2 separate regions of the Homo sapiens genome follow, and region 1 is linked to region 2. Evidence: fine-mapped expression QTL. A gene starts in region 2. The other region holds a variant in brackets. All regions are shown on one strand. Distances are from middle to middle. Region 1 holds the start of PUS1-AS1 (PUS1 antisense RNA 1). Region 2 holds the start of ULK1 (unc-51 like autophagy activating kinase 1).

The links. PIP is the estimated chance that this variant, and not a neighbour inherited with it, causes the effect.
Region 1: its variant is fine-mapped to the expression of ULK1 in whole blood (TOPMed, PIP 0.98).

Annotation. Positions count from the first base shown.
Region 1 is chr12:131,918,592-131,928,392 of GRCh38, reverse strand. It overlaps ULK1 (unc-51 like autophagy activating kinase 1), which reads right to left. Exons shown (of 28, transcript NM_003565.4): 23 at 9,712-9,801; 24 at 9,009-9,181; 25 at 8,803-8,921; 26 at 8,257-8,414; 27 at 7,158-7,293; 28 at 5,243-7,087. The coding sequence ends at 7,032. PUS1-AS1 (PUS1 antisense RNA 1) reads left to right here and starts at 38. Exons shown (of 2, transcript XR_001749414.2): 1 at 38-430; 2 at 3,627-3,881. RefSeq lists enhancers at 2,762-3,638, 3,740-4,059, 4,220-4,279, 4,690-4,769. The variant C/G (reference allele first, on the strand shown) is at 6,272.
Region 2 is chr12:131,883,407-131,899,294 of GRCh38, reverse strand. It overlaps ULK1 (unc-51 like autophagy activating kinase 1), which reads right to left and starts at 4,673. Exons shown (of 28, transcript NM_003565.4): 1 at 4,183-4,673; 2 at 3,602-3,694; 3 at 3,471-3,512. The coding sequence starts at 4,293. It overlaps LOC124903059 (a long non-coding RNA gene), which reads left to right and starts at 5,137. Exons shown (of 2, transcript XR_007063538.1): 1 at 5,137-5,448; 2 at 5,720-6,237. RefSeq lists an enhancer at 1,692-2,489 and silencers at 2,857-2,916, 2,947-3,006, 2,977-3,271, 3,197-3,346, 4,414-4,923 and 1 more.

The DNA.
Region 1 (9,801 bases), 32 kb before region 2:
GAGCCACGCGCCCGGCCTTTTTTTTTTTTTTTTTTTAAGAGACCGGCCCACTATGTTGCCCAGGCAGATCTCGAACTGCTGAGCTCAAGCGATCCTCCCGCCTCCCCTCCCGAAGTGCTAGGATTCCAGGTGTGGCCACCGCGCCCACCACTTCCTTGCCTCCTCTCCCAAGCTTGCCCTCCTGTCTCCTGCTTTCCCTTAGACAAACTCATATGATCCTGGGCCCGCGCAGATAATCTGGCATAATCTCAAAATCCTTAATCCCATCTCTGGGGCCACAATTCAACCAACTACAAGCTTGAATTTGGGGAATGAGCCATGGAGGTGTTGGGGAGAGCGTGTTCCTGGCAGTGCAAGAGCCAGGAGGCAGGAGACAGCCGTCTGCAGCAGCCCCACTCCCGCCCTCCAGGGGCTGTGCCTTCTCCTACAGGTGAGGACTCAGTGGGGCCGGGGCACTGTGCCCACCTGGAGTATGCAGGTAGAGAAACCACAGGGCTGCGTGATGACTGGAGGGACTGATAGGAAAAGAGGACCAAGGGGTCCGGGGCCAGGTTGTGTGGGGCCTCGTGGGCCACCGAGGACTTGGCATTGGCTATGAGTGAGATGGGAGCCCCAGGGATCCAATCTGACACCCCTTCCCAAGGGGCACTCAGTGGGCTGCGAGTGGCTTGTGAGGAGCTGGTGGCCGAGGCAGGAAGGGGAGGCAGGAGGGAGATGCAATTGTCCAGCTGGGAGGGTGGCTCAGCTGTATAAGTGACCCCCCAGGAGGGCACCCCTCCACCAGCCCAGGCTCCAGGACTGAGGCGGGGGGGTTTGGACAGGCACCCAGGGGGGCCACAGTTCTGTGGCAGTGTGGGCACCAAGGCCTGGTCCCCCTGGCTTGGAGCCCCGCCCCCACATGGCCAGTGTGTGCAGGGATGAGGTCCTTCCTGTACTGCCATGGCTTCCCCTGGGCCCACCCTCACCACCTGGCTCTGGCACAAGGACCTTTACAGCAGCTTTATTTACCACTGCCCAAACGCAGAAACAACCGATATGTCGGCAGGTGAATGGAAAAACTGTGGTACCTACAGACAATGGAATACTATGCAGCTCTAAAAAGAAATGAGGCCAGGCACAGTGGCTCATGCCCGTAATCCTAACGCTTTGGGAGGCCAGGAGGGCGGATCACTTAAGGCCAGGAGTTTGAGACCAGCCTGGCCAGCGTGGCAAAACCCGTCTCTAAAAATACAAAAATCTCTCTCCCTCTCCCTCTCGCTCTCGCTCTCGCTCTCGCTCTCCCTCCCCCTCCCCCTCTCGCTCTCGCTCTCCCCACGGTCTCCCTCTCCCTCTCTTTCCACGGTCTCCCTCTGATGCCGAGCGGAAGCTGGACGGTACTGCTGCCATCTCGGCTCACTGCAACCTCCCTGCCTGATTCTCCTGCCTCAGCCTGCCGAGTGCCTGCGATTGCAGGCGCGCGCCGCCACGCCTGACTGGTTTTCCTATTTTTTTGGTGGAGATGGGGTTTCGCTGTGTTGGCGGGGCTGGTCTCCAGCTCCTAACCGCGAGTGATCCGCCAGCCTCCGCCTCCCGAGGCGCCGGGATTGCAGACGGGAGTCTCGTTCACTCAGTGCTCAATGGTGCCCAGGCTGGAGTGCAGTGGCGTGATCTCGGCTCGCTACAACCTCCACCTCCCACCCGCCTGCCTTGGCCCCCCCAAAGTGCTGAGATTGCAGCCTCTGCCCGGCCGCCACCCCGTCTGGGAAGTGAGGAGCTTCTCTGCCTGGCCGCCCATCGTCTGGGATGTGAGGAGCCCCTCTGCCTGGCTGCCCAGTCTGGAAAGTGAGGAGCGTCTCTGCCCGGCCGCCCATCGTCTGAGATGTGGGGAGCACCTCTGCCCTGCCGCCCCGTCTGGGATGCGAGGAGCGTCTCTGCCCGGCTGCCCCGTCTGAGAAGTGAGGAGCCCCTCTGCCTGCCAACCGCCCCGTCTGGGAAGTGAGGAGCGTCTCCGCCCGGCAGCCACCCCGTCCTGGAGGGAGGTGGGGGTCAGCCCCCACCAGGCCAGCCACCCCGTCAGGGAGGTGAGGGGCGCCTCTGCCCGGCCGCCCCTACTGGGAAGTGAGGAGCCCCCTCTGCCCGGCCACCACCCCGTCTGGGAGGTGTACCCAACAGCTCATTGAGAACGGGCCATGATGACAATGGCGGTTTTGTGGAATACAAAGGGGGGAAGGTGGGGAAAAGATTGAGAAATCAGATGGTTGCCGTGTCTGTGTAGAAAGAGGTAGACATGGGAGACTTTTCATTTTGTTCTGTACTAAGAAAAATTCTTCTGCCTTGGGATCCTGTTGATCTGTGACCTTACCCCCAACCCTGTGCTCTCTGAAACATGTGCTGTGTCCACTCAGGGTTAAATGGATTAAGGGCGGTGCAAGATGTGCTTTGTTAAACAGATGCTTGAAGGCAGCATGCTCGTTAAGAGTCATCACCACTCCCTAATCTCAAGTACCCAGGGACACAAACACTGCAGAAGGCCGCAGGGTCCTCTGCCTAGGAAAACCAGAGACCTTTGTTCACTTGTTTATCCGCTGACCTTCCCTCCACTATTGTCCTGTGACCCTGCCAAATCCCCCTCTGTGAGAAACACCCAAGAATGATCAATAAAAAATAATAATAAATAAATAAATAAATAAAAATACAAAAATTAGCCAGGCTGGGTGCAGTGGCTCACGCCTGTAATCCCAGCTACTCAGGAGACTGGGGCACAAAAGTCGCTTGAACCTTGGGAGGTGGAGGTTGCAGTGAGCCGAGTTCCCGCCACTGCACTCCAGCCCGGACAACATAGCGAGACTGTCTCAAAAAAAAAAAAAAAAAAAAAAAAAAAGGCCAGGCGTAGTGGCTCACGCCTGTAATCCCAGCACTTTGGGAGGCCGAGGCCTGCGGATCACGAGGTCAGGAGATCAAGACCATCCTGGCTAACATGGTGAAACCCCGTCTCTACTAAAAATACAAAAAAAAAATTAGCAGGATGTGGTGGCAGGCCCCTGTAGTCCCAGCTACTCGGGAGGCTGAGGCAGGAGACTGGCGTGAACCCGGGAGGCGGAGCTTGCAGTGAGCGGAGATCGCGCCACTGCACTCCAGCCTGGGCGACAGAGCGAGACTCCGTCTCAAAAAAAAAAAGGAAATGAGCTCCCAAGCCCTGGGCATAGTGTATGATTCCAACTACGGGACATTCTGAAACAAGAAAAACTACGAGGACAGGAAGACCGGGGCCAGCAGAGCTAGGCTGGGAGAGGGCAACAGGTGGAGCCCAGAGGACCTTAGGGTGATGTGTGGCGTGACACTTCTGCAAAGCCCAGTGTACATCGAGTGACCCCATGATGTGAACTATGGACTTCGGGTACTATGACAGAACCTGTAGTATTAGAAGTGTCCATGATTTTTAAAAATCTAAAATATGAATATTGGGTTCAAAAGCAGAGACAAAGGCACTGCACGAATGTGACGTGTTACTGACAGGGGAGAGGGCAGATCTCTCTGTACGTCCTACTCAATTTTCCTACAGATATAAAACTGCTCTAAAAAATGATATTAACACCAACAAAATTCCATGTTTGTAGTGACCGTCTGGGCATTTCTTTACGTTTCAGAAGTACCAGGAGGATCACGGCGCCCACAGCCTGGCAGCTGCTCCACCACACCTTCTCACTCGGTGCCGAGTGCAGCTGTTCCTGTCTGAGGAGGCTCAGTTTGGAAGCAGCCCCTCTTGGGACTCAGAAATCAAGGTCTCCGCCTTCCCCTTCCTCGAGAACACCAACCTCTCAATGAACTTTCACTTCTTACTGCGGTTAGCAGTTTTTAGCAAGTTATTTTTATCTAATAAAAACAATATATAGTTTTAAAAATGCGAACTCTACAGGAGTTCGAGACCAGCCTGGCCAACATGTGAAACCCCGTCTCTACTAAAAATACAAAAAACTAGCTGGGCGCATGCCCGTAGTCCCAGCTATTCGGGAGGCTGAGGCAGAAGAATTGCTTGAACCTGGGAGGCGGACGTTGCGGTGAGCCCAGATTGCAGCACTGCACTCCAGTCTGGGCTACAGAGTGAGATTTCAACTAAAAAAAAAAAAAAAAAAAAAAGTTGGGGCGTGGTGGCTCACGCCTGTAATCCCAGCACTTTGGGAGGATGAGGCAGGCAGGTGGATCACGGGGTCATATTGAGACCATCCTGGACAACATGGTGAAACTCCGTCTCTACTAAAAATACAAAAACTAGTTGGGCGTGGTGGCACTTGGCCTATAATCCCAGCTACTCGGGAGCCTGGAGAATCGCTTGAACCCGGGAGGCAGAGATTGCAGTGAGCCAAGATTGCACCACTACACTCCAGCCTGGGTGACAGAGGGAGACTGTCTCCAAAAAAAAAAAAAAAAAAAAACAGCCAGGTGCGCTGGCTCATGCCTGTAATCCCAGCACTTTGGAAGGTCAAGGCAGGCAGACCACAACATCAGATTGAAACTATCCTGGCTAATACGGTGAAACCCCGTCTCTACTAAAAACAAAACAAAACAAAAACAAAAATTAGCCGGGCTTGGTGGCTGTAGTCCCAGCTACTTGGGAGGCTGAGGCAGGAGAATCTCTTGAACCTGGGAGGCAGAGGTTTCAGTGAGCCGAGATCGCGCCACTGCACTCCGGCCTGAGCAACAGAGTTACTCATTTCAAATTAAAAAATAAATAAATAAATAAAAAGGGGGAGGCAAAGGATTTAGATGTTCCTCCAAAGACACACAAATGGCCGCCAAGTACCTGTGATGCTCCACGTCATGACCCCTCGGGGAAATGCAAATCAAAACCACACGGCAAGGCCTTGGAGGCCCAGCTGCTCAGAGGCTGCAGTGAACGAACCGTGTTGCTTCTTGGAAGTTAACACACAGCTCCACGTGGCCCCGAAAGCCCCTCCTAGGTGTATCCCCCAAAGGAGTCAAAGCAGGTGCCCAAAGCTATACCAAGGCAGATGCCCTGCCCTCTGGACTCTCTTCACCCTGTGCAGGACCCCCAGCCTGGCGGGAGAGGCTTCCTGTGGCGCAGGGGTTTGCATTGTCCCTCAACACATCCAGCTTCTGCCCTGGGGCTCTGCTCCCAGGGCTGTGTCGACCATTGTGGGCACCTGTGGAGGGGCCCTGGGCTCCTGCGCCTCGGCTGAGAAAGAAAATGACAGAACCCTGAAAACAGTGACAAGCCAACGAAGACAAGTGGTGACACCAGCCCAACAATTCCAAAGGTTTATTTCCTTACGTTGGTATTATACAATATAACGCAAAGGGCAGGAAATCACACAAAATTCGCTTTAAAATAGACAAAGGGTCCAGCACTATCAAGAGAACATTCAACCAGGGGCAGCAGTTGAGGCGCCCAGGACCTGCTTGGACACACGCACATGCGGCCGCGACGGAAGCAAGAGGACCAGGACACCGGGCAAGATCCCCGCAGTGCCAGCTTCCCAGGACTCAGGATTCCAGTCGGCCATGAAGCAATAAATACAAACATGCCCCACAAGGTGAGAATAAAGCCATCAAGGTGATGAGGAAGAAGTCACGGGGATTTTCTTCTTCTAAGTCCAAGCACAGTGGCAATATTTCAAGTATTGCAAAGAAAAACACACGTGTGTGTATTTTTGTCTGTTATGTGGCGTGTGACCCTGGAACCCCCCGCATGGGTCCATGGCCCCACCACTGCCTCCCGCAGACTGGGGACTCGTTCAAGTATCTACTGATTCAGGCAGGGCTAATCGAGGGCTGGGCAGACCAAGGGAGGCCCAGGCGGGGTTTGCAGGGCATGCCCGCCTGGAATCCGGAAGGCAGGCCTCTCTGCAGATGCCCTCCGTGGCCTTGGGCAAGGCAGAGGCAGGGAGGGACAGGGCTGTCATCAGGCCTACCCTGCCGAGGAGCTGACATCAAAACTGACTGTCAAAGCTGGACGGGGAGCTTTTGCACATGTTACTTTTTTCTTTGCATGAAGTATTCCCCTCATCTGCTTCCAGGCCCAGGTAGGGAGGGTGCTGGGCACACACCTGTCCTGCTGCTGCCACAGGGAGGGGCGGCAGGGGACAGCCACCAACACAGGTGTGCAAAGCAGCCTCACCCGCCCGCCACACGCCCCTGTGCCATCTGCCTCTAACCTGGCCCAGTCCTCGCCCTCCCAAAACCAATTCTTAAACACCTACAAGTTTTCTCCTTTAAAGAAAAAATGAGCTGCATAAAAATAAGACACGTTTTAGGAATAAAGTGTGAAAGATTA[C/G]AAGACGTATCCAGGGCTGAGAGAACACGGTGCCTCTGCTGCCGGTCCCCAGAGGAACGCTTGAACAAAGAACTGCCTCTGCCTCTAGCGCAGGGCCCCACTCCCCCCGGAGCCAGTTCTCCCGCTGAGGTCCAGACCTGGGCAGCAACGTGGTCCGGTGCTCGGGCTTGGGGGGCCCTGGCATGTGTCTGCATATGTGTATGTACAAACACCAGGCCACTGCCAGGAATCGCTGCCCAGCAGTCCCTGGTGAGGTCCAGGTTCTGTCTCTATATGCATAAAGTGCTTGGGTGATTGACAAAGCTGGGTGGGTATCTCGGAGGGAGAGGCTCCTGGAGACTGGGGGACGCCGAGGCCGCAGGCTCTTCCTGGGCACAGTGCCTGCTGACCTTCCCTAAGCAGGAGCTCGCTTTGGCTTTGAGTCGGCAGTGGTCTCAGGCCCTTGCCTGTCCTCCGGGGCTGCCCTGGGGCTAGAGGGTGGTGGCACCCACGCCTGCTGAGCCAGGCAGCTGGAGGGGCAGAAATTCTGTGATCCCCACCTGTAAAAGATGGGAGACACCCCCCAAGCTGTGTGGCTCCAGATGTGCTGGTTCTGCCCCGTGAGCTGCAGGGAGGCCGGCAGGCTGACTGTCCGTGGGGCCCAGGGCAGGGCTCAGCACCAGCGATCAGCGCCATGGGCTTGTCCCGAGGAGTCCAGCCAGCACACAGAGCCCACTCTGCAGGGCTCGGCAGGACGGGGGGCCCAGCCAGGCCAGAAAGGTCAGGCACAGATGCCAGTCAGCAGCGCCGAGAGTCTCCGCTCAATGCACAGCTTGCCTGTGGAGGGAGAGGGGAGTGTGAGGGAGACGCCCAGAGTCCCCAGCCCCCAGCCCAGCCGGGCACTCACACTTGGTGACGTTCTCGATGTCGGCCTGGTCCGAGAGCATGTGCTGCAGCCCCTCCAGGAGCAGCAGGGCCTTGTGGTAGCGTGGGACGCAGCCCTCACGGTGCTGGAACATCTCGTCCAGGGCAGCCGACTGCACCTGGGGGCGAGGACAGAGGCTGGACAGGGCCAGCTCACCCCACTCCCTCCCAGCAAGGGCTGCCCTGCACCCACGGCAGCGGCCCAGGGGTGGCAGATAGGCGCTCAGGGCAGTGACGTGGAGACATAAGTGCTGGTGCAGCCTGCTGTGCAGAGGGGATGGTCACAGGGCCAAGGGGAGACACTGCCTGGAACCAGATGACCCTGGCCAGCGCTCTCAGCCCGGCCCCAGGACAACAGAGTGCCCGCCGCTCAGTCAGTGTCATTACTGCTGCTGCCTGGCCTGCCTGGGCGGGAAGGGGGGCAGGAGGGAGGCTGACTTTTCCCATGTTTGTTCAGACTGGATTTTTACTACATGCTTAAATTTTCTTAAAAAAGGAGACTCAGGCACTCATGAGTTTTTGCCTGTAATACCCAGCATCTTGGGAAGCTGAGGCAAGAGGATCATTTCAGCCCAGGAGTTAGCGGCTACACTACACTTCAGCCTGGGCAACAGTGCAAGACCCTCTCTTAAAAAAAAACAACAAAAAATAAACGAAAAGGGGGCACCACCTCAGAGGCAGAGGGAGCTCTTCAGAGCCCAAGCAGGGAGTCTTTGCCCGTGGTACCACCTGAGTGCACCACACTTCCAGGCAGGTTGTCCGGGACCAGGTGCTGCTTCTGGAGGCTGACACCTGACTACGAGGCCTGAAGACCAAGTCTCTCATTTTACAATTGGGGAAACTGAGTCGGGGCGAGGCAGGATGCACATGGGCCACGGCACCCGTACAATCAAGGATGCACCCAGCCGAGCTGCGAGCGCCTGCAGGAGGCTGGGGGTGCATAATGCTGTCATTTCAAGACCTCCAGAAGTGACACCCCCCAAAGTCTCACCACGCTGTGGGCATCAAGGTCCCGTCCCAGTGGAGACGGCGGGCCTGGAAGTTCCTGGCCCCTGCCCCACTGGTGTCTGTCTGTCCCGTACCATCTGCACAGCGTGGCTGAAGATGAGCCTCTCGGCAGTGATGCTGTGAATGCGGTCCAGGAGCCGCTGCTTGTCCAGGAAGAAGCGCTGCAGCCGCAGGCTCAGGCCCTGGCAGGACACCACGCTGGCCTTGTACAGCTCATTCAGCCTGCGCACCACTGCAAAGGACGAGGGTGGTCAGCTCAGGGTGCAGCAGACACGGGGCAGGGCTGGAGTGGCCATGATCTGCCCGGTGCACTGAGCGAGCACGTCCCTCCCTCCCTGCCACAGCCCTGGCTCCCCGTGGCCTTGAGGGTGTGGCCAGGCTCCGCACCTTGTCCCGGGTGCCATCCGACCCCACGGCCTCTGTGCTCTGCATACTGGGCTCCAGGGTGCTGTCCGACCCAATGGCCTCTGTGCTCTGCACACTGGGCCAGGCCCCGGGGCCTCTGCACCTCTGCACAGGGGCCTACTCAAGCAGCCTCCCTGTTACCCTGTCACCCAGGCAGTTGCAAGGTGGGCTTCCTCCCCAACCCGGCATGTGGGCTGAGCGGTCGCAGCCCTCACCCTGCTTCACAGTGGACGACAGGCAGAGCTTGCCGGCCCGGATCTGGTCGATGGCACTTTGCAGGCCGGAGGACAGTAGCTCGGCCACCTTCAGGTACAGCACCAGCTGTTCCGCGAAGCTGGGGGCGGCAGGCAGATCAGAGGAGGCCGGTTGGTCCTGGCCCCCAGGCCACCACCCGCCCCACCCCAGCCCTGGCGGCACCCACCCCCATTCTCGGCTCAGCAGGCTGATCTGGTCGGCCACCACACTCTCCTGCAGCTGGTACTCAGGGCCCCCCGCCGCCTCACTGGCGCTGCCCTTCAGGGCTGCGATCTCCAGGACGTGCTGCACGAACAGCAGCGTGAAGCGCAGGCCACGCAGGATCTCCGTGTGCTCTTGCTGCAGGAAGCGGCCGTCAGGGCGGCAAGTGCTGCCCGGGCTTGGAAGGGGCTTGTCTCCCTTCAGACTCACCGATGACGCCTTGGGGAGGCAGGGCAGGGTACCCTCCCCTGCTGCAGCCCGGGCAGCTGGGATGTGCCACGCCCGACACCCCACACACCCTGCACCCCACACACCGTACACCCCACACAGCCGACACCCCACACACCCTGCACCCCACACACCCGACACCCCACACACCCTGCACCCCACACCCTGCACCCCACACACCCTGCACCCCACACACCCTGCACCCCACACACCCTACACCCCACACCCTACACCCCACACACCCGACACCCCACACACCCGACACCCCACACACCCGACACCCCACACCCCACACACTCTACACCCCACACACTACACCCCACACCCCCGACACCCCACACCCGACACCCCACACACCCTATACCCCACACACCCGACACCCCACACACCCCACACACCCTCCAGCCAGAATGGGAACCTTTGCTCACTCCAGCCCTCACCTCCATGAGGGTCTCCTCAGGGAGGTCGGGGGCCTCGAAGGTCACAGCCCCCTCCAGGTTCGCAGTAATGGGGTCGGCAAAGCTGCAGCC
Region 2 (15,888 bases):
ATCGCTTGAACCCGGGAGGCGGAGATTGCAGTGAGTCGAGATGGTGCCACTGCACTCCAGCCTGGGCAACAAGAGTGAAACTACATCTCAGAAAAACGTATATATAAAATATAGAAATATATCAGGCAGGCTGGGCATGGTGGCTCATGCCTGTAATCCCAGCACTTTGGGAGGTCGAAGGTGAGGTCCGGCGTTCAAGATCAGCCTGGCCAATGTGGCGAAAATTGTATAAATTTTTTAATACAAAAATTAGCCGGGCGTGGTGGCAGGTGCCTGTAATCCCAGCTACTCGGGAGGCTGAGGCAGGAGAATCGCTTGAACCAGGGAGGTGGAGGTTGCAGTGAGCCAAGATCGCGCCACTGCACTCCAGCCTGGGTGACAAAGAGAAGCTCCATCTCAAAAAAAAAAAGAAATACACTATACAAAGGACAGGTGGTATTTCTAACATTCCCATGCTCGGATAGGGAAGCTCATTCATCACCAATGTAAAAGAAAACCGCCCAGGCATGGTGGTTCACTCCTGCAATCCCACCACTTTGGGAGGCCGAGGTGGGTGGATCATGAGGTCAGTTCGAGACCAGGCTGGCCAACATGGTGAAACCGTGTCTCTACTGCAAATACAAAAATTAGCCTAGCGTGGTGGCAGGCGCCTGTAATCCCAGCTACTCGGGAGGCTGAGGCAGGAGGATCGCTTGGACCCAGGAGGCGGAGGTTGCAGTGAGGGGAGATTGTGTCACTGCACTCCAGCCTGGGCGACAAGAGCAAAACTCAGTCTCAAAAAAAAAAGAAAAGCAAAACCATAAGAGATGTCATTTTCTACTTCTCACATGAGCCACGATGGAAACCTCTGAGAGCCACCCTCCTGGCAAGGACCTAGGGAGACACATGCTTGGAGACAGGCTGAGAGACCAGTGGCATTGCCTCTCCGGAGGTCCATTTGGCAATAGCTACCCAAATTAAAAACCAGCATCCCTCCTACCCAAGGATTCTACTTCTAAGGATCCAGTCACAACCACCCTGATGTACCAGCATCCCAAAATAACCTCATGTCCCACCTACAGGGCCTTGGTGAAATCAGTTATGGAATCTCGGGCAACAGGCACGCCATGGCTGAAAATCACCACGGCAGACCCAATCAGGCCAGCAGCTAGCACCTCCACGATGGCTCCTCCAACCCGAGAGCACTCCCTCCTCCCTCACACAGCCCTCACAGCCCGTGCTTTCTGCTTCACAGAGGAAGAAATAGGACCGCAAACTAAAGAAGCTGTGTGTGCACATATGGCAGCCAGGACTGGGCCCCTCATCAGCGTCAGCCTGGCTCTCGACCACTGTGCTTACAGATGGTGACCTCTAACAGAGAGGGGTAAACTTTTTGAGGGTTTTGTTTTGTGTTTTTGAGACAGGGTTACACTCTGCTGCCCAGGCTGGAACGCGGTGGCAACATCACGGCTCACTGCAGCCTTAAACTCCTGGGTTTAATCAATCCTCCTACAACCTTTATAGTAGCTGAGACATGCCACTATGCCTGGCTAATTTTTTTTCTTTTTTTTTCTTTTTTTTAGAGAGAGCGAGTCTTGCTATGTTGCCCAGGCTGGTCTGTCTTGGCCTCCCACAGTGCTAGGGTCACAGGTGTGATCCACTGTGCCTGGCCGAGGGGTAAACTTTCTGATATGGATTGAGCCAGCACAGAACCTTCCCCAAGCTCTACTCTTTTAGAGACAGGGCCTCGCTCAGTCGCCCAGGCTGGATGGAGTGCAAACTATACTCTTAAGTGACAAAATTCACGGCGCAGAGAGGTGGGTGTGGCGGGGAAGGACACCGGTGAACACATCGCCTTGTAAGGATGGCTGTCCCCGGTGGCCCGGAAACAACTAAAGCAGGGGCCTGAGAACGGAGGGCAGCGGGACTCGATCGGGGGCAGGACTCTAGCCTCGACCGCACTCCCTCCCGTAATGTTTGAGGATTTTCTTTTATCACCCAAATCGTTCATTGTCCATTTTTAAAACCCAGTTATTTTTTCCTGGGTTTGGGTGCCTGCCTCAAACATTGCCTTACCGACACAGGGCAACAATCCCCACGCCTGTGGGGGCGAGGGCAGGCTAAGCTGCAGCTCCAGCAGAGCCCGGTGCCCGGAGACAGGAGCGCCTGCAGCTGGCGGCTCCAAGTGCTTCCTGAGTAGAGAAAGCCGCAGAGTTGCCAACACTGGAGGAAGTGGCAGATGCCCACAACCAGGTGTGTGTGGCTGACTGGGATGGAGCTGGGCCTGGGGATACTGGTCCCGGGTCTGCGGGGGTCGTGCGGACAGTCACAGGGCCTGGCCTGGAGATGCCCAGGACTGGACCTGGGGAGCCCTGGAGGGGAGCAGCAGGCAGTGTAGCCCAGGGTGGAGGGGGAGTCCCTCAGAGTCGCTGCCTGGCCAGGGACAGCTGTCCACTCCTTGCTGGCTCCCAGAGCCATGACGCATGTGCAGGCTGTGGTCCAGGCAGGAGGCTTCCAAACATGGAGAGGATGAGGAAAGAGGAGGAAGGGAGGGAGGAAAGCAGGGAGAAAAGGGGTGGGAAGAGGGCGGGAAAAGCAGCAGGAGGGATGGCCCAGCTCCAGGACACAGTGTGCCTGGGTTTCCAGGTACTCGCTGGACCTGGGCCCCCCCCACCCGGCACCTTGTGACAAGCCTCGGTCCCCAAGGCCACAGCAAAGCTCTGAGAGGCGGACGGAGGAGGCCACCAAAACACGGCCTGCCAGCCCTTCCCTCAGCCAGGGGCTGGGCCCTGGGCTCAGTAAACAGGTCACAGAGCCATTAGTCAGCACTTTGGCGGGGCGGATCTCCCGCCTCAGGTTCCTGGTCCCCAGGACGGCACCCTGGCTCCCACAGCCCCAGCCCTGCCTGCCCTGGGCCCCGGGACACGGAGGCAGCACGAAAGCCAGCTGGTCCCACCGCTTGCTTCTTGGGGCCAGCCGGGCCCGAGGTCATCTCCTTGGCCAGCCAGCGGCAGCCGCCTGTGCCCCGGCCCGGCCCTGACTGCCAGCGAGCAGGAGTCTCCGGCGGCCCCTCCCCCGCCCCGTCTGACGCAGAGCGAGGCCGGCCAATGCCGGCCGCAGGAGCAATGTCAACAAACACACGGCCTAGACAGGTGGGCCAGGCCGGCAGTGCTGCCAGGGCCAGCCGGGGACGCCGGACTCAGGCAGGGCCCCTAGGACTGACGCCCGGCGGGGAGGGGATGCCTGTTCAGGAGAACTCAGCCCTGCCCTGGGGCGCCCTGCGGCCCAGACACCCCCTCCCCGGTCTCACAGCTGGGGAAGTCACAGCAAGAGCCAGCACCAGCCCAGGCCTGGACCCAGGGTGGAGTCTCCAGGGGCCCAGTAGACCCCAGCCTGGACAGGCTCAACACCAGTGCTCACCAGGGGATCCAGCACCTGGGGCCACAGTCCCCCAGCCCGGTCCCCAGCAGACCGCAGCCCAGAGGCCTTACCTGGAAGTCGTACAGGGCCACGATGTTTTCATGTTTCAGTTCCTAGGACAGAAACCCAAGTTTGTTATCAGTGTGGGGAGGGGGGCTTGCCCACGCCCACGCCCACGCCCCCTCCCCCAGCACTGGCTCACCTTCAGGATTTTGATTTCCTTCCCCAGCAGCGTCTGAGACTTGGCGAGGTTCTTCTTGTTAATGCACTTGACGGCGACCTCCAAATCGTGCTTCTGAAAGCCAAACGTGCACCTTCAAGGCCAGGGCTGCCCCTCGCAGGCCTCCCCCAGACCCCAGTCCACACAGGTGGGGCCCTGAGATGATCCCGGTTGGGAATCCCGGGACTGGAAGGCCGAGTGGGGAGCCAGGTTGAGGATCGCGCTGGGGGTCCTGGGGTAGGGATCCAGCCTCGAAAGCCGGCTGTGGGACCAGGTTGCGGGGTGTCCCGGGGTGAGGGTTTGGACAGGAAAGTCGGGCTGGGGGTCTCGGAGTGAGGATCTGGGCTGGAAAGCCCGGCAGCGGATCTCGGGGCGGGAGTCTGAACTGGAAAGTCGGGCTGGGGGTCGCGGGGTGGGGATCCTGGGGTGGGGGTCGGCCTGGAAAGTCGAGTGGGGCTCTCGGGAGGCGTGGGGGGGTCCCGGGACAGGCGGGGAATCTCGGGGCGGGGATGCAGGGGCAGGGGATCCTGGGCGGGGGATCCCGGGCCGGACGGGGGCCTCACCTCGCGGTGGCGGCCCTTGAAGACCACCGCGAAGGCGCCGTGGCCGATCAGGTCCTTGCGGGAGAACTCGAACTTGCCCACGGTCTCTGTGCCGCCGCGGCCGGGCTCCATGGCGCAGGCGGGCCGGGGGCGCGGGGCGGGGGGTGGCGGGCCAAGGCGCGGGGGACTCAGGCGGAGGCGCGGGCCGGGGCGGGCGGGCCGGGGGCGCGGGGCCGGGGGCGCGGGGCCGGGCGAGGGCGCATCTCCGGGGCCGCGCGCCCCATCGGGCAGGCCGGGGCCGGGTCCCAGCCCCGCGGGCCAGGCGGGGTCCGAGGGTCGCGCTCCCTCCGGCGCCTGTGCCACGGCACTCTTCCCGGGCTGCTAATCCGAATCCGGATCCGACTCCGACTCCGACTCCGGCTCCAACTAGGGCCCGGGCTCGGCCCCAACGGAGAAACAAAAGAGCCGCGGCGCCCGGGCCTCAGAGCCTGAGACGCCCGCGCAGCCGCACTGCGCGCCGGGCCGGGAGGCGGGATGAGGGCGGGGCCTGCGGGACGGAGCGGCAGAGCCGGGCGTGACGAACAGACGGGGGGCGGGGAATGGGGCGGGGCCTGTCGGGGGGGTGGGCGGCTGGGCCGGGCCATTGCGGGGCCGGGTGGGCTGGGAGTGGGTGGGGCCAACAGCGGACCCGCCCCGGTGAGAGCAGAGAGGCGCGCTGACCCGGGAGCGGGCCACGGGGCTCAGTGTTGATTCCTTGCCCCACTCCCTTCCACGCCCCTTCCCCGCCCCTTCCCCGCCCCGCTTCTTCTCTGCTCCCCTCCCTCCTTTCCCCTCTCTCCGTCCTCCTCCCTCCTTTTCCCCTTCCCATCACCTCTCTCCCTCCCTGCCCCCTCCCTTCCGCCCCCTCCCATGCCTTCCCCCCCGCTCCCCTCCCGCCCCCACTGCCTGTTCTCCTCCCTCCTGTCCCCCCTCCCTGTTCCCCTCCCTCCCCTTCCCTGTTCCCCTCCTTCCCGCTCCCTGTTCCCCTTCTACAGGAGAATGGAGAACAGGCGTGGGAAATGTTCCCAAAACGGGGGACTGCGCAGAATTAATTCTTAGAAATAGAATGGCTGAGTTAGAGGTTAGGCATTTAAAGTTGAGTTCCATAATGCCAAATTGCAAAAAAAAAAAAAAAAATTGTAGACCAAAAAGTTGTCACCCAAACCAACGACATAGCCCATAAATCCGCTGGGGAGGAAAGGTTAGCTAGATGGGCTGCGCATCGGTCCTGTGGAACACTGCACAGAGGTAAATATACCTGTGCTCAAGGGTGAGTTCTCCAAAGATTATAATTAAGTAAAAGCAAAATATGGAACAGGGCACTGTACTGTCTGTCGTTTTAAGAAAGCGGTAGGATTGGGATGTGTGTGTGTGTGAAACGCCTGTAATGTGTACATGGTCGTTCCTAACTATAATGACAGCTAACTCATCACTTAGGCCAAGCAGCGCACTTTCCAGCGATTAGTGCATCCATTCAATGATTCCACGAGGCACTTGCTGTTATGTCCCTGTTTTACAGATGAGGAAATCAAGGCGGAGAAAAGTTGGAGAATGTGTCCAAAGTCACACCGCCGGCAGCCAAAAGAGCCCGGGGGCTCACTCACAGAAGACACAGCCAACAGCGATTGCTCTGGGAGAGAGGACCGGGGAAAAGTTAGTGCTGTTCACCGTACACGTTGCGCGCTAGTTGGAATGGCTTTCACCACGTGCAAGCACTGCTTTTGCAAATGCATGATTCTAAACAATGCTCACCAACCCAGCCTTCAGTACAGTCCTAAAGTAACAGCCCAGAAACACACACTTCAGCCAGGACCCTCCATGCTGCCTCCCAGAGCAGCCCAGCAGCTGGACAGCCTGATGCCCTGGGCTGGATCAGCAAGTCCTGGATGCCTTTTACCTGCACCCAGCTCATCCTCCAGGCCGCAGGACACACAGACTCCCGACCCTGGACTGGGGGCCAGAAGCCACCGAGCTGGAAGGGACAAGAGGTCTCCTGGCCCACCATGTTTGTTTTCCCAATAAAGAGGTTCCACAGTGCCCCGTAGTCAGCCATAGCATTCACTCACATCCTGGAGTGCCTGCTGCACACCGGCCTGCCCAGAGAGCACACGCTGCGAGGTAAGTGCTGCAGTTGACACAGTGAGAACAAGACCCGCCTGCAGGAGCTCCCAGCGCTTAGGGGTGGGGGACAAGAAGAGCAAAGATTGCACCACCCGTGGCAAAATTGCAAGAGAAAAATGAGTGAACAGGTGGCTACGTGCTGAGGTGATCAGGGCAGACCGTGAGGGCCGAGATTGCTAGAGATGGCGAAGCCTGTACTCCTGGAAAGTACTCAGGGAACCCCAGCCCAGCCCACCCTGGCCTGGAAAGCCAAGCTAACGGGGTCTTCACCCCAAACTCAAAGAAATACCCAGGAAGAGTTTAGGAGAGGGTGGGATGGCAAGATGGGATTTGCATTTGGAAACCGTTACTAGGCCCACCGAGGAAGGACATGTTTCTTTTTTGTTTTGTGCGGTCTTATTAAATTTTTTATTCTTTTTATAACTTTTAGGTTCAGTGGTGTGTGGACAGGTTTGTTATACAGGTAAATTATGTTTCACAGGGTTTGATGAACGGATTATTTCATCACCCAGGTAATAAGCAGAGTACCCGATAAGTAGTTTTTTGATCCTCTCTCCCTCCTCCCACCCTCCCACCCTCAAGTGGGACCTGGTGTCTCTTGTTCCCTTCTTTGTGTCCTATTTTCTTTTTTTTTTTTTTGAGACGGAGTCTCGCTCTTTCGCCCAGGCTGGAGTGCAGTGGCGCTATCTTGGCTCACTGCAAGCTCCGCCTCCCAGGTTCACGCCTTTCTCCTGCCTCAGCCTCCCGATTAGCTGGAACTACAGGCGCCCGCCACCACACCTGGCTAATTTTTTGTATTTTTAGTAGAGATGAGGTTTCACCGTGTTAGCCAGGATGGTCTCGATCTCCTGACCTCGTGATCTGCCCACCTCGGCCTCCCAAAGTGCTGGGATTATAGGTGTGAGCCACAGCGCCCGGCCCGTATATTTTCAGTGTTTACCTCCCACTTATAAGTGAGAACATGTAGTGTTTGGTTTTCTGTTCCTGTGTTAGTTCGCTTAGGATGATGGCCTCCAACTCCATCCATGTTGCTGCAGAGGACATGATCTCATTCTTTTTTATGGCTGTGTAGTATTTCATGGTGTATATGTACCACAGTTTCTTTTTTTTGAGACAGGGTCTCACTCTGTCACCCAGGCTGGAGTGCAGTGGCTCAATCGCCACTCACTGCAGCCTTGACTACCTGGGTTTAGGTGATCCTCCTGCCTCACCCTCCCAAGCAGCTGGGATTACAGGTGCACGCCACCACACCCTACTAATTTTTGTATTTTTTGTAGAGATGAGATCTCACTATGTTGCCCAGGCTAGTCTCAAACTCCTGGGCCCAAGTGATCCTCCCGCCTCGGCCTCCCAAAGTGTTAGGATTATAGACGTAAGCCATCGGCCCAGCGTGGTGGCTTACGCCTGTAATCCCAACACTTTGGGAGGCCGAGGCGGGCTGATCACCTGAGGTCAGGAGTTCGAGACCAGCCTTGGCCAACATGGAGAAACCTTGTCTCTACTAAAAATACAAAATTAGCCGGGTGTTGTGGTGCATGCCTGTAATCCCAGCTACTCGGGAGGCTGAGGCAGGAGAATCGCTTGAACCCGGGAGGCGGAGGTTGCGGTGAGCCGAGATCGCACCATTGCACTCCAGCCTGGGAGACAAGAGTGAAACTCCATCTCAAAATAAATAAATAAATAAATAAATAAAATTAAACAACAGACATAAGCCACCACACCCAGCCTCAGAATGTGTTTGTTTTTGTTTTTTTTTGTTTTGTTTTTTTTGAGGCAGAGTTTCGCTCTTTTCACCCAGGCTGGAGTGCCATGGCGCGATCTCGGCTCATTGCAACCTCCACCTCCCTGGTTCAAGTGATTCTCCTGCCTCAGCCTCCCAAGTAGCTGGGATTACAGGCACACGCCACCACACCTGGCTAATTTTTGTATTTTTAGTAGAGATGGGGTTTCACCATGTTGGTCAGGCTGGTCTTGAACACCTGACCTCATGATCCACCTGCCTCGGCCTCCCAAAGTGCTGGGACTGCAGGCGTGAGCCACCGCGCCCGGCCCATCTTAACCATTTTTAAGTGCACAGTTCAGTGACATTAAGTACAATCACATTGTTGTGGGCCGGCCGTAGTGGCAAACGCCTGTAATCCCAGCACTTTGGGATGCCGAGGCAGGAGAATTGCTTGAGCCCAGGAGTTGGAGACCAGCCTGGGCAACATGGTGAAACCCTGTCTCTATAAAAACATTGTTGAGGCGGGGCGTGGTGGCTCACGCCTCTAATCCCAACACTTTGGGAGGCCGAGACGGGCGGATCACTAGGTCAGGAGATGGAGACCATCCTGGCTAACACAGTGAAACCCTGTCTCTACTAAAAATACAAAAAATTAGCCGGGCGTGGTGGCGGACACCTGTAGTCCCAGCTACTCAGGAGGCTGAGGCAGGAGAATGGCATGAACCCGGGAGGTGGAGCTTGCAGTGAGCCAAGATCGCGCCACTGCACTCCAGCCTGGGTGACAGAGCGAGACTCTGTCTCAAAAAAAAAAAAAATTGTTGTATAACCGTCACCACCATCCAGCTCCAGAACTCATTCAGCTTCCAAAACAAACTCTGTCCCCGTTAAAGACTCATTCCTCATTCCCCTCCTTCAGCCCCTGGCACCCACTCTTCTACTTTCTTTTTTGTTTGTTTTTTGTTTTTGTTTTTGTTTTTTGAGACAGAGTCTTGCTCTGTCACCCAGGCTGGAGTGCAGTGGCATGATCTTGGCTCACTGCAACCTCCGACTCCCGGGTTCAAGCAATTCTCCTGCCTCAGCGTCCCAAGTAGCTGGGATTACAGGTGTGTGCCATCACACCCGGCTAATTTTTGTATTTTTAGTAGAGATGGGGTCTCGCTATGTTGGCCAGGCTGGTCTCAAACTCCTGAGCTCAGGTGATCCGCCCGCCTTGGCCTCCCAAAGTGCTGGGATTACAGGCGTGAGCCATGGAGGCTGGCCCTCTCTTCTGCTTTTGTCTCTGTGGGTTTGACTCCTCTGAAAACCTCATATAAGTAGAATCCTATAGTATTTGCGCTTTTGTGACTGGCTTCTTTCACTGAGTATGATGTTCTCCAGGTTCATCTATGTTGTAATGTTGGGGCTCAGTAATTGATATCCCAAAATAGGGCACCTTCACACGCTGAACTGAAGAAAGAAACGCTCAAGGTCTCTCCAGCCTCCCCCCACTTCTCCCAAAGTCAAAGCTTCTTTATCTGCCTAAGATCCGGACCCGCCAAGGAGAACAATTGTTTATTCCTTCCCCTCCCTGGAAGAGCAAGAATGTGGCTACACCTGAACAGATCCTTTCCCTCAGAGAACCACCTACGAGTTAACCCTTTTCCTTCAGAGAGAACCATCTAGGAGTTACTCTCTCTTCCCAGACACATTCATTCTCCCGGTGTATCCCCTCAACAGAGCTGCCCTTCTCCCCACCTCCCATAACCTGCTTTGCTTCTGACCTCCCTGAGGGTGTGGGCAGTCGCTCTGTGATTCTCCCTGAATGCACATGTTCCATAAACATGCACACTCCTTCTCACCTGCTTTTTGCGAGTTCATTTTTCCACAGTCCTTCCAGGGCTGAGCTGTGGCCTTTACGGTCCTGTGTGTCAGAACATTCTTCCTTTTCAAGGCAGGATGATACCCATTGTATGGATAGACCACATTCTCTTTCTCCTTTTTCTTTTTCTTTTTTTTGAGACAGGATGTCACTCTGTAGCCCAGGCTGGAGTGCAGTGGCAGGAGCACAGCTCGCTGCAACCTCCGCCTCCTGGGCTCAGGTGAACCTCCCACCTCTCAGCCTCCCAAGTACCTGGGACGCGCCTTCACACCCAGCTAATTTTTTCATATTTTGTAGAAACAAGGTCTCACTGTGTTGCCCAGGCTGGTCTCCAACTCCTGGGTTCAAGCAATCCACCTGCCTCAGCCTTCCAAAGTGCTAGGATTCCAGGCGTGAGCCTCCTTGAGCTGGACATTTTCTTTGTCCATTTACCCATGGATGGACGCATGGTTATTTCCACCTTTGACTACCGCGAATCATGCTGCTGCGAATGTGGGTACACAGATAACTGTTTGGGTCCCTACCTTCACTTCTTTGGAATATATACCCAGGAGTGGAATTGCTGGATTGTAGGGAATGTTATTTAATTTCTTCAGGAACCTCCACACCATTTTCCACAAGGTCCACACCATGTTACCTTCCCAACAGCAGCACCCACGCGTTCCCTTTCTCCACAGCCAACACTTGTTCTTTTCCCTTAGTTGCTTTCAACAGTACCCATGGGTGTGAACTGATATCTCATTGTGTGTGTTTTTTTTTTTGAGACAGAGTTGTGGTCTTGTCGCCAAGGCTGAAGTGCAGTGGCACAATCTCAGCTCACTGCAACCTCTGCCTCCCAGGTTCAAGTGATTCTCCTGCCTCAGCCTCCTGAGTAGCTGGGATTACAGGTGCACGCCATGCCCGGCTAAATTTTTTTTTTTCTTTTTTTTTTTGAGACAGAGCTTTGCTCTTGTTGCCCAGGCTGGAGTGCAATGAAGTGATCTCAGCTCATTGCAACCTCTGCCTCTCGGGTTCAAGCAATTCTCCTGCCTCAGCTTCCCGAGTAGCTGGTACTATAGGTGTGCACCACCACGCCCCGCTAATTTTTGTATTTTTAGTAGAAATGGGGTTTCACCATGTTGGCCACCATGGTCTCTATCTCTTGACCTTGCAATCTGCCTGCCTCGGCCTCCCAAAGTGCTGGGATTACAGGCATGAGCCACCACGCCTGGAGCTAATTTTTGTTTGGTTTTGGGTTTTTTTTAGAGACTGAGTCTCGCTCTGTCACCCAGGCTGGAGTGCAGTGGCACAATCTCGGCTCACTGCAACCTCTGCCTCCCGGGTTCAAGCAATTCTCCTGCCTCAGCCTCCTGAGTACCTGGGATTACAGGCACAGGCCGCCACACCCGGCGAATCTTTTTTGTATTTTAGTAGAGACGGGGTTTCACTGTGTTGCCTAGGCTGGTGTTGAACTCCTGAGCTCAGGCAGTCTGCCTACCTTGGCCTCCCAAAGTGCTGGGATTACAGGCATGAGCCACCGTGCCCAGCCTACATTTTTTATTTTTAGTAGAGATGGGGTTTCACAATGTTGGCCAGGCTGGTCTCAGTGATCCTCCTGACCTCAAGTGATCCACCCGCCTTAGCCTCCCAAAGTGCTAGGATTACAGGCGTGAGCCACTGAACCCGGCCTGACTGTGGTTTTGATTTGCATTTCTCTAACCACTAGTGATGTTGAACATCTTTGTGAGGACTAAACTCATATTTTTTATCTTGCCCAAATTCTTATCTAAGGGGTCTAGAGAGTCATGCCCTACAAACCATAAATTCTCATCAGATGGGTTTTATTTAATCCTATATATTGTGACTTAATTTTTTTTTTTTTAGACAGAGTCTCTCTCTGTCACTCAGGCTGGAGTGGAGTGGCACAATCTCAGCTCACTGCAACTTCTGCCTCCCAGGTTCAAGTGATTCTCCTGCCTCAGCCTCCCAAGTAGCTGGGATTACAGGCACCTGCCACCACACCCAGCTAATTTTTGTATTGTTAGTAGAGACAGGGTTTCTCCATGTTGGTCAGGCTGGTCTCGAACTCTCAACCTCAGGTGATCCACCTGCCTCAGCCTCCCAAAGGGCTGGGATTACAGGCATGAGCCACCACGCCCCACCCAGTTTGTGTATTTTTAGTAGAGAGGGGGTTTCTCCATGTTGGCCAGGCTGGTCTCGAACTCCTGACCTCAGGTGATCTGCCACCTTGGCCTCCCAAAGTGCTGGGATTACAGGTGTGAGCCACTGCGCTGGTAGCCTTTTTTTTTTTTTTTTTGAGACTGAGTCTCGCTCTGTTGCCCAGGCTGCAGTGCAGTGGCGCGATCTCGGCTCACTGCAAGCTCCGCCTCCCAGGTTCACGCCATTCTCCTGCCTCAGCCTCCTGAGTAGCTGGGACTATAGGTACCTGCCACCATGCCTGGCTAATTTTTTTTTTTTTTTTGAGATGGAGTCTCCCTCTGTCACCCAGGCTGGAGTGCAGTGGCGCGATCTCAGCTCACTGCAAGCTCCGCCTCCCGGGTTCACACCATTCTCCTCCTCAGCCTCCCCAGTAGCCGGGACTACAGGCGCCTGCCACCACACCTGGCTAATTTTTTGTATTTTTTTTTTTTTTTTTTTTTTTGAGACGGAGTCTCGCTCTGTCGCCCAGGCTGGAGTGCAGTGGCGCGATCTCGGCTCACTGCAAGCTCCACCTCCCGGGTTCACGCCATTCTCCTGCCTCAGCCTCCCACGTAGCTGGGACTACAGGTGCCCGCCACCACGCCCGGCTAATTTTTTTGTATTTTTTAGTAGAGACGGGGTTTCACTGTGTTAGCTAGGATGGTCTCGATCTCCTGACCTCGTGATCCACCCGCCTTGGCCTCCCAAAGTGCTGGGATTGCAGGCGTGAGCCACCGCGCCCGGCCTGGTTAGCCATATTTTGAAGGCTTTGCAAAGCCCTCCTTTGTGGGGAAAAATTTGCATCTGTGAAGAATCTCTATTAACATAGCTAGATCTTTTTCTTTCAGGCCCTCCCAATCCTAAAGAGATTAACTTAAAGTCTAGCATAGGAATTATTTGTCACTTACTGTCTCTCTAAGGGCAGCCATTGTAAGACCTCAAAGAAACTTTAGCCTCCACAATCTTTTCTCTTAACCTGAACATTTCCTTTCTATGGATCCCAGGTTTTTAGACAAACTCAACCAATTGTCAACCAGAAAATGTTTAAATTTACCTATAGCCTGGAGGCCTGCCCACCACCCCTTTGAGTTGTCTCGCCCTTCTGGACCAAACAGTGTCTTTCTTTAATGTATTTGATTGATGTCTCCTGTCTCCCTAAAATGTATAAAACCAAGCTGCGCCCCGACCACCTTGGGCATGTGTTCCCGGGACCCCCTGAGGCTGTGTCACAGGTCAGGGTCACTCATGTTTGGCTCAGAATAAATCTCTTCAAATATTTTACAGATTTTGACTCTTTTTGTCAACATTTGCAGGTGCTTACTGGCCACTTGTGTATCTCCTTTGGAGAAATGCCTATTCAAGTGCTTTGCCCATTTTGTAATCTGGTGGCTTGATTTTTTGCTGTTGAGTTGTGGGAGTTGGTTATGTATTCTGAATGTTAACTGCCTGCTTTTGTAAATAAAGTTTTCCTGAAGCCATGGTCTGCGTTTATTGGTTGTTTCTGCCTTCTTTAGTGCTACTGACATCGCCTTTGTAAAATTATGACTGAGACAGTGAAAGATCTAACTTAACCGACTCCATCTTCCTTCTAACCTCCAAGCTGTCTTTGTTCATTCCTGGGCGTAGGCTGAACTAACTTTGGGAGAAACTTAGCTTGTAGTTTACAGTTTAAACAAAGACGGTAACAGCCCTTTCCCAAAGCAAACCTCCTTCTTGCCTAACATTAGCCACAGGATTAGAAATTACGGTTTAGGAGCCATGCAGCTGGAGGCTACAAGATTCTGACCCTCCCTAAACTGCTCCTAAGATCAGCGCTTGAGATATTTTGCAGACCCTGCACTTGATGGATCAGCTGGCACCACCCAGATGGATAAACAGGCTCGTCAGATCTTGTGGCCCCCACCCAGGAACTGACTCAGTGCAAGAGGAAAGACAGCTTTGACTTGCTATGATTTCATCTCTGACCAATCAGCATCCTGGCTCACTGGCTTCCCCCCACCAACCAAGTTATCCTTAAAAACTCTACTCCCTTGCAGGATGCGGGTGGCTCACACCTGTAATCCCAGCACTTTGCGAGGCTGAAGCAGGTGTATCACGAGGTCAGGAGATCGAGACCATCCTGACTAACACGGTGAAACCCCCTCTCTACTAAAAATACAAAAAATTAGCTGGGCATGGTAGCATATGCCTGTAATCCCAGCCACTAGGGAGGCTGAGGCAGGAGAATTGCTTGAACCTGGGAGGTGGAAGTTGCAGTGCTCCGAGATTGTGCCACTGAACTCCAGCCTGGCAACAGAGCTAGAGTCTGTCTCCAAAAAAAAAAAAAAATCAACTTTATCGGGGGGTATAATCCACATACAATTAAAGGTTCACATTCTAAGAGTTCAGTTCAGTGAGTTTTGACAAACGTACAAACCCATTTATCCACTCCCAATCAACACAGAGCATTTCTATCGCCCAAAAGTTATCTCCCGCTCTTTCCCATTCAAACCCCACCCCAGGCCAAAAGTGATCTGATTTCAAGGCTATCAATGAGTTTGCATCTTCTAGAATCCCACAGAAGTGGACTCTGCAGCCGGGTCTCTTCGTTTGCGTCTTGGTTTGGGCCCATGTGCACTCATCCCTCTGGCTGTTTCCCGTGGCTGAGCGAGATCCATCCTTTCCCGTGACTGAGTGGGGGGGCCATCCTCTCCCTTGGCTGAGTGGGATCCATCCTTTCCCGTGGCTGAGTGGGGGGCCATCCTTTCCCGTGGCTGAGTGGGGGTCATCCTTTCTGTGGCTGAATGGAGGGCCATCCTTTGCCGTGGCTGAGTGGGGGTCATCCTTTCTGTGGCTGAATGGAGGTCCATCCTTTGCCGTGGCTGAGTGGGGGTCATCCTTTCTGTGGCTGAATGGAGGGCCTTCCTTTCCCATGGCTGAGTCGGTGGGGGGGCATCCTCTCCCGTGGCTGAATAGGGGGATCCATCCTTTCCTGTGACTGAGTGGGGGTCATCCTTTCTGTGGCTGGAGGGCCATCCTTTCCCGTGGCAGAGTGAGGGGCCATCCTTTCCTGTGGCGGAGTGAGGGGACATCCTGTCCCATGGCTGAGCAGGATCCATCCTTCCCGTGGCTGAGTGGGGGTCCATCCTCTCCCGTGGGTGAGCGGGCGTCCATCCTCTCTCGTGGCTGAGTGGGGGCCATCCTTTTCCATGGCTGAGTGAGGGCCATCCTTTCATGTGGCTGAGAGGGATCCATCCTTTCCTGTGGCTGAGCGGGATCCATTCTTTCCCGTGGCTGAGTGGAGGCCCATCCTTAGGTACCTCCAGTGAGCAGCCTACATCCTTGGAGGATGGAAAATTGATTTGCCTCTTCACAGACTTCTCTGGTTCTAGCTTTGGGCTATTTATGCGTGAAGCTGCTAAGAACATTTCCCAAATGTGATTTGTATAAATACCTAGGAGTAGGATTCCTAGTGTGAGGTCAGAGTCTGTCTAGCAGCATAAAAACAACCAAAAGATTTTCTGAGCCTCAGGGCACATGGGTGGGGCCCAGAGAGCACCCAGGACCGAAGCTGCCCAGGACCTCCCTCAAGCGCCCCAGGCTGTCCCCACTCCCACTGCTAGGAGCCTGCTCCAGGGCCAAGGGTGAGGCCCACCCTGCCTGGTGGCTCCCTCATGCCCCTCCGGCACCCCCAGGAGTGAGGGTGGGCTGCCAAGCTTCCCTTCCTCCACTTCCTTCTCTAACATGCCCACCCCTCCTTTTTTTTAAACAAAGAGGCTGGAGGCCCTAGGATCCAGCCTGGTGGCTCCGAGATCTACCTAAAGCGCCC